Regions from separate parts of the Homo sapiens genome. Here region 1 is linked to region 2. The links come from fine-mapping of genetic effects on gene expression. A gene starts in region 2. The other region holds a variant in brackets. All regions are shown on one strand. Distances are from middle to middle.

What was found. PIP is the estimated chance that this variant, and not a neighbour inherited with it, causes the effect. A credible set is the group of variants that fine-mapping cannot tell apart.
Region 1: its variant is the best candidate, but not a certain one, in a credible set for the expression of C12orf43 in whole blood (INTERVAL, PIP 0.52).

What each region holds. Positions count from the first base shown.
Region 1 is chr12:121,040,695-121,046,069 of GRCh38, reverse strand. No RefSeq gene overlaps it. Among named protein-coding and RNA genes, the nearest start is that of OASL, 4.1 kb to the right of the region's middle. The variant TTTTTTTTTTTG/G (reference allele first, on the strand shown) is at 2,291.
Region 2 is chr12:121,013,894-121,019,268 of GRCh38, reverse strand. C12orf43 (chromosome 12 open reading frame 43) reads left to right here and starts at 2,782. Exons shown (of 6, transcript NM_022895.3): 1 at 2,782-2,939. The coding sequence starts at 2,795. It overlaps OASL (2'-5'-oligoadenylate synthetase like), which reads left to right. Exons shown (of 6, transcript NM_003733.4): 6 at 1-158. RefSeq lists a silencer at 2,686-2,879 and enhancers at 2,607-3,116, 3,088-3,603.

The sequences.
Region 1 (5,375 bases), 27 kb before region 2:
TTTTTTAAACAGGGTCTCACTCCCTTGCCCAGGCTGGAGTACAGTGGAGTGATCAGGGCTCACTGCAGCCTTGACTTCCCACATTCAGGAGATCCTCCTATCTCAGCCCTGTCTGAGGTAGCAAGACCCCATCTCTACAAACAATTTTCTGAAAATTAACCAGGCATGGTGCCTGTAGCTCTACCTACTCAGGAGGCTGAGGTGGGAGGATCACTTGAGCCTAGGAGTTCGACACCAGCTTGGGCAACATAGTGAGACCCTGTCTCAACAACAACAACAAAAAACAATTTAAAATTAGCCAGGTGTGGTGGCTTGTGCCTGTAGTCCCAGCTACTCAGGAGGCTGAGGTGGGAGGATCACTTAAGCCCAAGAGGTCGAGGTTATAGTGAGTTGTGATCATGCCACTGCACTCCAGCCTGGGCGAATGAGCAAGACAACATCAAAAAAAAAAGGAAGAGAAAAGAGAGAGAGAGAGATGACAGAAAGAAAGAGAAAGAAAGGAAGGAAGGAAGGAAGAAAGAAAGAAAGAAAGAAAGAAAGAAAGAAAGAGAAAGAAAGAAAGAAGAAAGAAAGAAAGAAAGAAAAAGAGAAAGAGTTCCTCAGATTGGCTTTCTCTGCTTCCTAATCCCCCACACTTACCCCTTGAGATCATTTCCCAGAACAAACCACCTTCATGCAACCCCTTGTCTCATGCTCTGCATTGAGGGGAATCCAAGCTAAGACAACACTCATCTTTGTGTCTCTTTCTCCTGCTCAAAACCTAGCTCAGCCCCTTCCTATCCACTGGCTCTTCTCCCTCCCTGCAGATGCCTGCTCAACTGGGTGGTATTTTAACAAACCATAAAACCAACACATTACTGATTTCATGTTCCCTTTTGAAATCCTCAAATGTCATCCAACATATTAATGATCAAATAATTGAAAGCTATGTAACCCTCAGAGATTTCACGAAGTCGAATAAAAAACCAATAGGTTAAGGTCTGAATGTTTATTGTTTGAATAACTTCTATATTGCCTTGAAGTTCATTGTCAGTCATCGTAACCATATGGCAAATGTTTGGAGTCTTAACCGGTTGTTGACTTAGCTTTGTGAAATTGTCACTGCTCTTTAAATCCTCATAATATGGTATTGCTGAAGGATCAGGTACTACCAAACACTGGAAATATAAGAACTTTTATAATTTATGTAATTAAAATATGTGATGCTTTCCACTTGGGGTTAGCCAGTTTGAAAAGTTAAATTGGAATGTGTCATGATGGACAAACTCCTTGAAAGAATCATCTGCACTTCTGGTCTCCATGCCCCCGACCCCACCCAGCCTAATCTGGCTTCAGCTCCCTCCTCTCGCCTAAAACTGTGCCCACCTTGATCACCAGTCGTTTTCTTGAGTACTTTTCAGGTCTGTATTTCTTAACTTTTCAGAAGCATTCAGCAATGTGGGTGACTTTTTTTTAACTCTGGTTATGCCCACCTCTTTGGCCACCCCAGCAGGTACCGCCTAAATTTCTCTTCCTCTGCTCATCACTTAAATTTGGGGCTTGGCCAGGCATAGCAGTTCATGCCTGCAATCTCAGCACTTTGGGATGCTGAGGTGGGAGGATTGCTTGAGCCGGGGTTCGAGGCTGCAGTGAGCTATGATTGCACCACTGCTCTCCAGCCTGGGAGATGGAACGAGACTCTGTCTCTACATTAGTTCATTTTGGTGTGATTCATTCTTCCCCAAGGTACCAGTGACCACGTGTATACTGAGGGAAATCAAATATGTCTTTACATGGAGCAGGTCACTCGCTTCTCATCCTTGGGTACTACCAAATCATTATCCAAAATGCACCCCTCGAACTCCCCACAGCCATACCCACTCCTCCTTCTCTCCTTGGGAATGGTGGCTCCAACAGTTACTCAAGGACACAAGCCAGAGAGCTGGGAGTCATCCCTGTCTTCTCCTTGCCCCTCACCTATAGTCAACAAGAAGCCCTGCCCACCCTTCTTCCAAAATAGACCTAGAATCCAACCCCTCTTCTCCACCTGCACTGCTTCCAGCCTTGTCTTGGGCCTCACTGCTTATCACCTGCACCCCTGCGAAGTGTCCTAATGCATTTCCCTGCATCTGCCCTTGCCCTCTGCGGTTCGTCCTCACCATGGAAGCAGCCAGACCAATCTTAACTCCACTACATGCCACTCCCCTAAATTTGCCACTGCCCTCAGGACAAAAAGCAGATTCACCTGGCACTCTTTTAACCCAGTGGATCATTTCCATTTCTTCTTCTTCTTCTTCTCCTTTTTTTTTTT[TTTTTTTTTTTG/G]AGACAGGGTCTCACTCTGTCACCCAGGCTGGAGTGCAGTAGCATGATCATGGCTCACTGCAGCCGCGACCTCCCTGGACTGAGGTGATCCTCCTACCTCAGCCTCCTGAGTAGCTGGGACTATGGGCACTCACCATCATACCTGGCTAATTTTTGTATTTTTTTGTAGAGATGGGGTTTTGCCATGTTGCCCAGGCTGATCTTGAATTCCTGGGCTCAAGCGATCCTCCCATCTTGACTTTCAAAGTGCTGGGATTTCAGGTGTGAGCCACCATGCCCATCCCATTTCCTCTTTCTTAAAACAATATCTTCACTTGGCCTTCAAACCATCACTCCTGATTTCTCTTCCACCTCACTAGCTACTTCTTTTCCTTCTTCTTTGCTGGACTCGTGCAACTCCCTAAACTCCGAATAATATTAAGTGCTCTGGGGCTCAGTCCTGGGTCTTTTTCTCTTCCTGCTGTGTCATCACTCCCTTGGTGATCTCATTCAGTGTCATGGCTTTAAACATCCCTATGCCGGTGACCCCCACATTTTATCTCAAGTCCAGACCTCCTCCCTGTAATACAGACTCGCATATCCAACTCCCCACCACATATCTCCACCTGGGTCTCTGACAGACACCCCAAACTTCAGTTCCAAAACTGAGTTCCTTCCTCATCTCCATGCCCAGCCTATCCCACCTCAGTTAAGGGCAGTTCAACCTTTCTGTTGCTAAGGCCAAAAGCCCCGGACTTAGACCTTGACTCTGATCTTTCTCTCTCATCATACTCTACCCATTAGCAAGACCTGTCAGCCTTGGAGTCAAAATATATCCAGCGGAATGACATGATGTCCAGATTCACTTCCAAATAACACAGTAGGGAATCTAGGGATGGGGGTAGAATTGAAACCAGACTGTCTATAAGTTGATCATTGTTGAAACTGGTGATGGTACATGGAGGTTCATTGTATTATTCCACTTTGTTTGAAATGTTCCAAAATCAGAAAAATTAAAACATACTATTTCACTGCTACCACTCTGATCCAAGTCAACTGACCTCTTGCCTGGACTGTTGCAGTAGCCTCCTAACCATACTTCTGCCTCCACTTTCACCTCCACTCCACCCTCTGCTTCTAATTTAATTTCCTCCCAGCAGCCAATGTGATTAATTCCATTAAAATGAAAGACCGTGTCACTCCTCCACTCAAAACTCTCCAATGTATGGTGTCAGACTCCTACAGAACAACAAAAAATGCTCCCCAGTGGTTCCCCATTTCATTCAGAGTAAAGCCAACTCCTAACAGTCGTCTTCAAGATCCTATCCACTCCTGCTCCTTGTTTATGGAATAAATCTTTTTAAAAAGATCTTATATCCTGGCTGGGTGCGGTGGCTCACGCCTGTAATCCCAGCACTTTGGGAGGCCGAGGCGGGTGGATCGCCTGAGGTCAGGAGTTAGAGACCAGCCTGGCCAACATGGTGAAACACCGTCTCTACTAAAAGTACAAAAATCAGCTAGGTGTGGCGGTGGGCACCTTGAATCCCAGCTGCTCAGGAGGCTGAGGCAGGAGAATCGCTTGAACCTGGGAGGTGGAGGTTGCAGTGAGCCGAGATTGTGCCATTGCACTCTAGCCTGGGCAACAATTGTGAAACTCCATCTCAAAAAAAAAAAAAAAAAGGATCCTGTATCTATTTGCCTTGCCACCCTTTACTACTTAAACCGCATTCCCTTCCACTCTCTGCTCTTGATCACTCCGTTCCAGGCACACTGATGTTCCTTATACTTGCCACCGGGCAGTACCACCACAGGGTCCTCGTACTTTCCACTCCTTCTGCCATGAAGAATCTTCTTCCTTCTGTTACACACGTGGCTCACTCTACCTTCTTTTTTTTTTTTTTTTTTGAGACGGAGTCTCGCTGGAGTTCAGTGGTGCAATCTTGGCTCACTGCAAGCTTTGCCTCCTGGGTTCACGCCATTCTCCTGCCTCAGCGTCCCGAATAGCTGGGACTACAGGTGCCTGCCACCACGCCCGGCTAATTTTTTGTACTTTTAGTAGAGATGGGGTTTCACCGTATTAACCAGGATGGTCTCGATCTCCTGACCTTGTGATCCACCCGTCTTGGCCTCCCAAACTCTTCACCTTCTTATGTCTTTGCTCAGATGTCTCCTTTTCAGGGAGGCCTTCCCTAATCACCTTATGTAAGACTGAAACCTAAATACATGCCCCCAACACACACACACACACACACACACACACACACACACACACACACAACCTCTTAATCCCTTCTCTTGCTTTGTTTTTCTGCTTAGCACTTATCACCGTCTTCTTTACTATAATTTTACCTATTTATCCTATTTGTTGTTTGTCTCCACTACCAGAAAGAAAACTATCTGCAGGTAGGGATTTTTCACTACTGTTTGTTCACTGTTGTATCCACAGCACCTGCCTGGCACAGAGTAGGTGCCCAGTAAGTATCTGTTGAATGAGTGAACGAATGAGTGAATAGCACTCCAAGATTCAATCCTGCCCACCTGTCCAGGTACATTTCTAACCTCTCCCCTGCTCACCCTTTCATCCCAAGGCACACAGCACACTTGAGTCCCTGGCATATCCTAGCATTATTTATACTTCTCAGCCTCTATGCTGTACCCTCATCCTCCTGGCTGGAGTGCCAGTCTTTTTTATTTTTTATTTGGAGACAGAGTCTCATGCTGTCACCCAGGCTGGAGTGCAGTGGCACCATGATAGTTCACTGCAGCCTGAAACTCCTAGACTCAAGTGGTCCTCCCACCTCAGCCTCCCAAGTAGCTGGGGCTACAGGTGGACACCACCACACCTAGCTATTTTTTAAAAAACTTTTTGTTTTTAAAACAAAAACTGGAGTTTTAAACTCCAGGCCACCACTGCCTCTCACCTGCACCACTGTGCAGTGTCCTGACCATCTCCCTACATCTGTTCTTGCCCTTGCAATCATCCTCACCACAGAAGCAGAGAAGTTACAAGTGTGGCAAAGGGCAGACCGGAATTCAAAGCCAATGTGGAGTGGGGAGTTGGATACATGAGTCTGGATTTCAGGGAAGAGGTATGG
Region 2 (5,375 bases):
CTGTTTGCCTTCAGGGACAGAAAAAGTGCCTCCTTTCCAGGAGGTAGACAGGCTGTTCCAGTCCCCATCTTTGTGTCCTTCATAATGCCCAGCACAGCCCACATTGTAGGTGGTGGGAAAATTCTTGTTTAAAATAAAAAAAAGAATGAAAAATGCAATGTCTTAGTCCATCTGGGCTGCTAAAACAAAATACCATACACTGGATGGCTCATGAACAATAACCATTTATTTCTTACAGCTCTGGAGGCTGGGAAGTCCAAGTCAAGACACTGGCAGATTTGGTGTCTGGTGAGGACCTCTTCCTGATTCACAGATGGCAGCTTCTCACTAAGTCTTCACATGGTAGAAGAGGCAAAGGTGTCTCTAGGATCGCTTCTTTTTTTTTTTTTTTTTTTTTTTGAGATGGAGTCTCGCTCTGTCACCCAGGCTAGAGTGCATTGGCATGATCTCAGCTCCCTGCAACCTCTGCCTCCGAGGTTCAAGCGATTCTCCTGCCTCAGCCTCCCGAGTAGCTGGGACTACAGGCACCTACCACTGTGCCCAGCTAATTTTTTTTTTATTTTTAGTAGAGACGGGGTTTCACCATCTTGGCCAGGCTAGTCTCGAACTCCTGACCTTGTGATCCACCTGTCTTGGCCTCCCACAGTGCTGGGATTACAGTTGTGAGCCACCATGCCTGGCCTCTGGGGTCTCTTTTATGAAGGCATTGATCCAGTTCATGAGGGCTCAGGACCCATTATGTAATTGAAAGATTCTCCGTGGGGCCTGAAAGCTTAAGAGAATGAATGACCCCTCCCTCCCCTCCCTCCTTGGGCCCGGTCCCAAGGCGCAAGGCCACTCGCGCCAGCAGCATGTGTCAGCAAGATAGCAGAAGCGGGAAGAGAGCGGGCCAGAAGACACCTACCCCCTGAAGACCGAGAGAGACGTCATCCGGGTACAATGTAGCGGTTACAACAGACTGAGAAACTTCCTGTTTACAGGAGACTACAAAACCCCTGCCCCGTCCTCATTTGGTGCTGACGCCATTTTAAGCCTCAGCCCACCTGCACACACACTGCCTCATGTTGTCTGTTGGCCACGCTCTTGGGGTTCGAACCAACACAAGACCCTTTCACTAATTACTTCCCAGAGGTCCCACCTCCTAATACCATCACCTTGGGAGTAAGGACTTTTTGGAAATTATCAGTATCAAAATGGAGTCACTTATGTCAAACCCTAACAAATGCCTGTCACAAAAATTATCTCAAGAAGTTCCTAAAATCCGCAGTATTATAGATAAACCACTTGCATAAGAATATTTGCCTAACAGTGGGTGTCTCCACAATAAGCTAAAGCCAACTCCTGCAACAGGCTCCTGTGATCAACGGTACTTGTTTTAAAGAAGCTTATGTGGACTTTGTCTTTTCTCGTTGCCACAACCTCTTTTAATGTGCCTATAGTCCACTATAGCATGCATATCTCAAATTGCAATTCCTTGCAATTCTGGAATAAACGCTTTATTTTGGAGAGTCAGTCTCTCTGTTATTTATTTTATGGTGTCAATTTTAACATATGAATTTTGGAGGAACACATTCAGACCATATCAGTCACCTTCCTCTTCTTTGAAATAGAAAAAGCTCAAGGCCAGAGAGTTTATTTTAGTAAAGTTTTGACATACCTGTCTTCAAAGATAAAACATGAAACAGCATTCCACACACAAAAGTAAAGTGATTTTGTTCATCCTTCACTGTGAGGTATTTTAACCACAGAGATTCTAATTTTTTGGTCTTGGATGGGTCCTGGGAGTCAGTATTGCCTGGCTAATTTTTGTATTTTTAGTAGAGATGGGGTTTCACCATGTTGGTCAGGCTAGTCTCGAACTCCTGACCTCATGATCTGCCCGCCTCGGCCTCACAAAGTGTTGGGATTACAGATGTGAGCCACCGTGCCCGGACAGGATTCTGCATTTCTCTTTTTTTTTTTTCGAGACAGAGTCTCAGTCTGTTGCCCAGGCTGGAGTGCAGTGGCACGATCTTGGCTCACCTCAACCTCCACCTCCCAGGTTCAAGTGATTTTCCTGCCTCAGCCTCCTGAGTAGCTGGGACTACAGGTGCGTGCCACCATGCCCAGCTAATTTTTGTATTTTTAGTAGAGATGGGGTTTCACTATGTTGGCCAGGCTGGTCTCGAACTCCTGACCTTGTGATCTGCCTGCCTCAGCCCCCCAAAGTGTTGGGATTACAGGCGTGAGCCACCGTGCCCAGCCTGGATTCTGCATTTCTAACGAGCTCCCAGGTGTTACCAATGCTGCTGGCTCATGGACTACACTCTTAAGTAGTAAGGCCCTAGGCTATTAAAGGAAATACAGATTCCTGGATTCCACCTATCAGAGATTCTGATTCTGTTAGTATTTTCTGTGAGACCCAAAAGTCTGCAGTTTAACCAGCTCTCTAAGGTGTTTCTTAGGCCCAGCTGGACTGGGAAATTACTAGAATAAATGACATGGAATCAAAACCTGGGAACTAATCCTGGGTCTGTCATTAACTCCTTAGGAGATTCCCATCCCCTCTGGAGATCTGTCATCAAGAAATGATTGGAGAAGTTAATCTCTTAGGCCCTTCTAGCTCTTGCCTTTGAGAACCGCCCACCTCCCCATTCCCACCTGGTATCCCCAACCCAGTACAGTTCATGGCCAATGGCGGTCCAAGTCTTGGAACTACAATCCCCACAATGCCTCGCGCCTCTCCTCTCACGTGACGTCATGAAGGAGGCTTGATAACGGCGGTGTTCTCCACAATCCTTTGCGGTGGTTCAAGATGGCGGCGCCCAGTGGCACAGTGAGCGATTCGGAAAGTAGTAACAGCAGTAGCGATGCGGAGGAGCTGGAGCGGTGCCGCGAGGCGGCAATGCCGGCTTGGGGCTTGGAGCAACGCCCGCACGTGGCAGGGAAGCCAAGAGCCGGTAGGGTACTATGTTTGGGGAGACTGGCTGAGGGGCGTGGGATCTTCCCCTGGAGCCTGAGAGGATGGATGGTGAGGAGAGAGTCACTGGGACTCGGCTTCCTTCCCCGAGAGACCTCCAGGGACTGGGTGTAGTGCAGATTGAAAGCATGGGCAGGTGCAGTAGGGAGGGTATTTCATTATTCCAGTCGGGGAAGCTGAGGTACCCAAATGTCTTTTGATTCTGCCTCCTTGGGTCTATCCTCACTGCCCCACACTGGGAAGGCTGCCGTCTCTTCGAGATAACTGCAACAGCCCCCTCCCGGTATTCTCGCACCCAGCCTTTCCCCACCTCCAACACATTCTCCCACCCTGGAGGTTGTTGCCAAGAGCAGTGCCCAGCACATCACTCTGACCGTGACTCCCTAGTGCCCTGGGAATAAATACAGAGCCCCGCAACATCAAGGGGCCTAATCATGGATAGAACCCAAGGGTTCTTGAATTTGGAATGAAAACATGTTGCATCTTTGCTTTCTATTCATCTCTGACTGAATTTTAGCATCTCTTTCCGTCTTGCAAGCACTAAGCCACAGTAGTTCTGGCAATGCCGTTACTTTATCCCAACAGAAGTCACAGATTTTCATATCTCATTACAATCTTTGCAGATACAGATATCAATATATCATTTTATTGATAAAAAGATATTGGGGAAAAAAGTCATTTACACTCATCCCTGATTTAAAATGTGCCACTCTAATTTTTAGACCCATCTCTATATCTAAGATGTAAGAAGCACATACATCACAAGTTTGGTTGTTTACTATCATGATAATTAAATTTCGGTATCATTGGTTTTCTTTGTAATCCTGTATGTTGCATTTCATGCATTTAAAACATTGCTCTGAGAAGAGAACCGGGCTTCACCAGGCTGTTAGAGAAGGCTATGGCAAAGCAAGGTTAAGAACCGCTGGATTTGTTTAAAAGGACTTACAAGCCCTTTGGTGATCCATTGCCTTCCTCTCCCTTCCTTCCCTCCTGCCATACTGCACTTCCTGTAGGTAGCTTCCAGACCATAGTCTGCCCCTCTCACCCCCTAGTACCATAACCACAGTTTTCTCTGCAAGTTCTATTTACAGATCTGCCTTTCCATCTCATTAGCGGTGGGAACTTGAGCAAAGTACTTAAATCTCACTGTACCTAAATTTCCTCATCTGTACAGTGCGGGTAGTGATAGTACCCACCCCATAAGGTTGAGAAGTAACTGAGATAATGCAATCTACAGTGCTTGGCACATCTTAAAGGCCCAATACATGGTGGCAAATATGTGGTTGGTCTTTCCACATGGACTGCTTTCCTCCTCCTGCCTAATTCTCGCTCTTTTTTTTTTCAAAACTAGGACTCAGTCTGTTACCGAGGCTGACACAATCATGGCTCACTGCAACCTCGACCTCCCCCTACTCAGATGATCCTCCCACCTCAGCCTCCCAAGTAGCTGAGACTACAGATGTATAGTCCCAGCTACTTTTTGTATTTTTTGTAGAGATGGGGTTTTGCCATGTTGCCCAGGCTGGTCTCGAACTCCTGGGCTCAAGTGATCCTCCCTTCTCAACCTTCAAAGTGCTGAGATTACAGGTGTGAGCCACTGTGCTCGGCTTCTAGTTTTTTTTGTTTGTTTGTTTGTTTTTTGGGGTTTTTTTTTTTTTTTTGCATTTTTTTTTTTTGAGATGGAGTTTCACTCTTGTTGCCCAGGCTGCAGTGCAATGGCACGATCTCAGCTCACTGCAACCTCTGCCTCCTGGGTTCAAGTGATTCTCCTGCCTCAGCCTCCCTAGTAGCTGGGATTACAGGCGCCTGCCACCACGCCCAGCTAATTTTTTGTATTTTTAGTACAGACAGGGTTTCACCGTGTTGGCCAGGCTGGTCTCAAACTCCAGACCTCAGGCAATCCACCTGCCTCGGCCTTCCAAAGTGCTGGGATTACAGGTGTGAGCCACCGCGCCTGGTCTCTTTTTTTCTTTTTGAGACGCAGTCTCGCTCTGTTACCAAGGCTGGAGTGCAATGGCGCGATCTTGGCTCCCTGCAACCTCCGCCTCCCAAGCTCAAGCAATTCTCCTGCCTCAGCCTCCTAAGTAGCTGGGATTACAGGTGCCCACCACCAGGCCCAGCTAATTTTTTTTTATATTTTTATTAGAGACAGGGTTTCACCGTGTTGGCCAGGCTGGTCTCGAACTTATGACCTCAGGTGATCCGCCCACCTTGGCCTCCCAAAGTGCTGAGATTACAGGCATGAGCCACCACACCCAGCCTAGATTACATTCTTGAGTGCGTCTAGTAATAGCCACCAGGAGTTGAGAATTTTCTTTTTGCCCCTGTTCTAAACACTTTGTATTTGTTGTCTGTTTTCATCTTCCCAGCAATGCCACAAGAGGGTGTATTAGCCCCATTTTACAGAAAACTG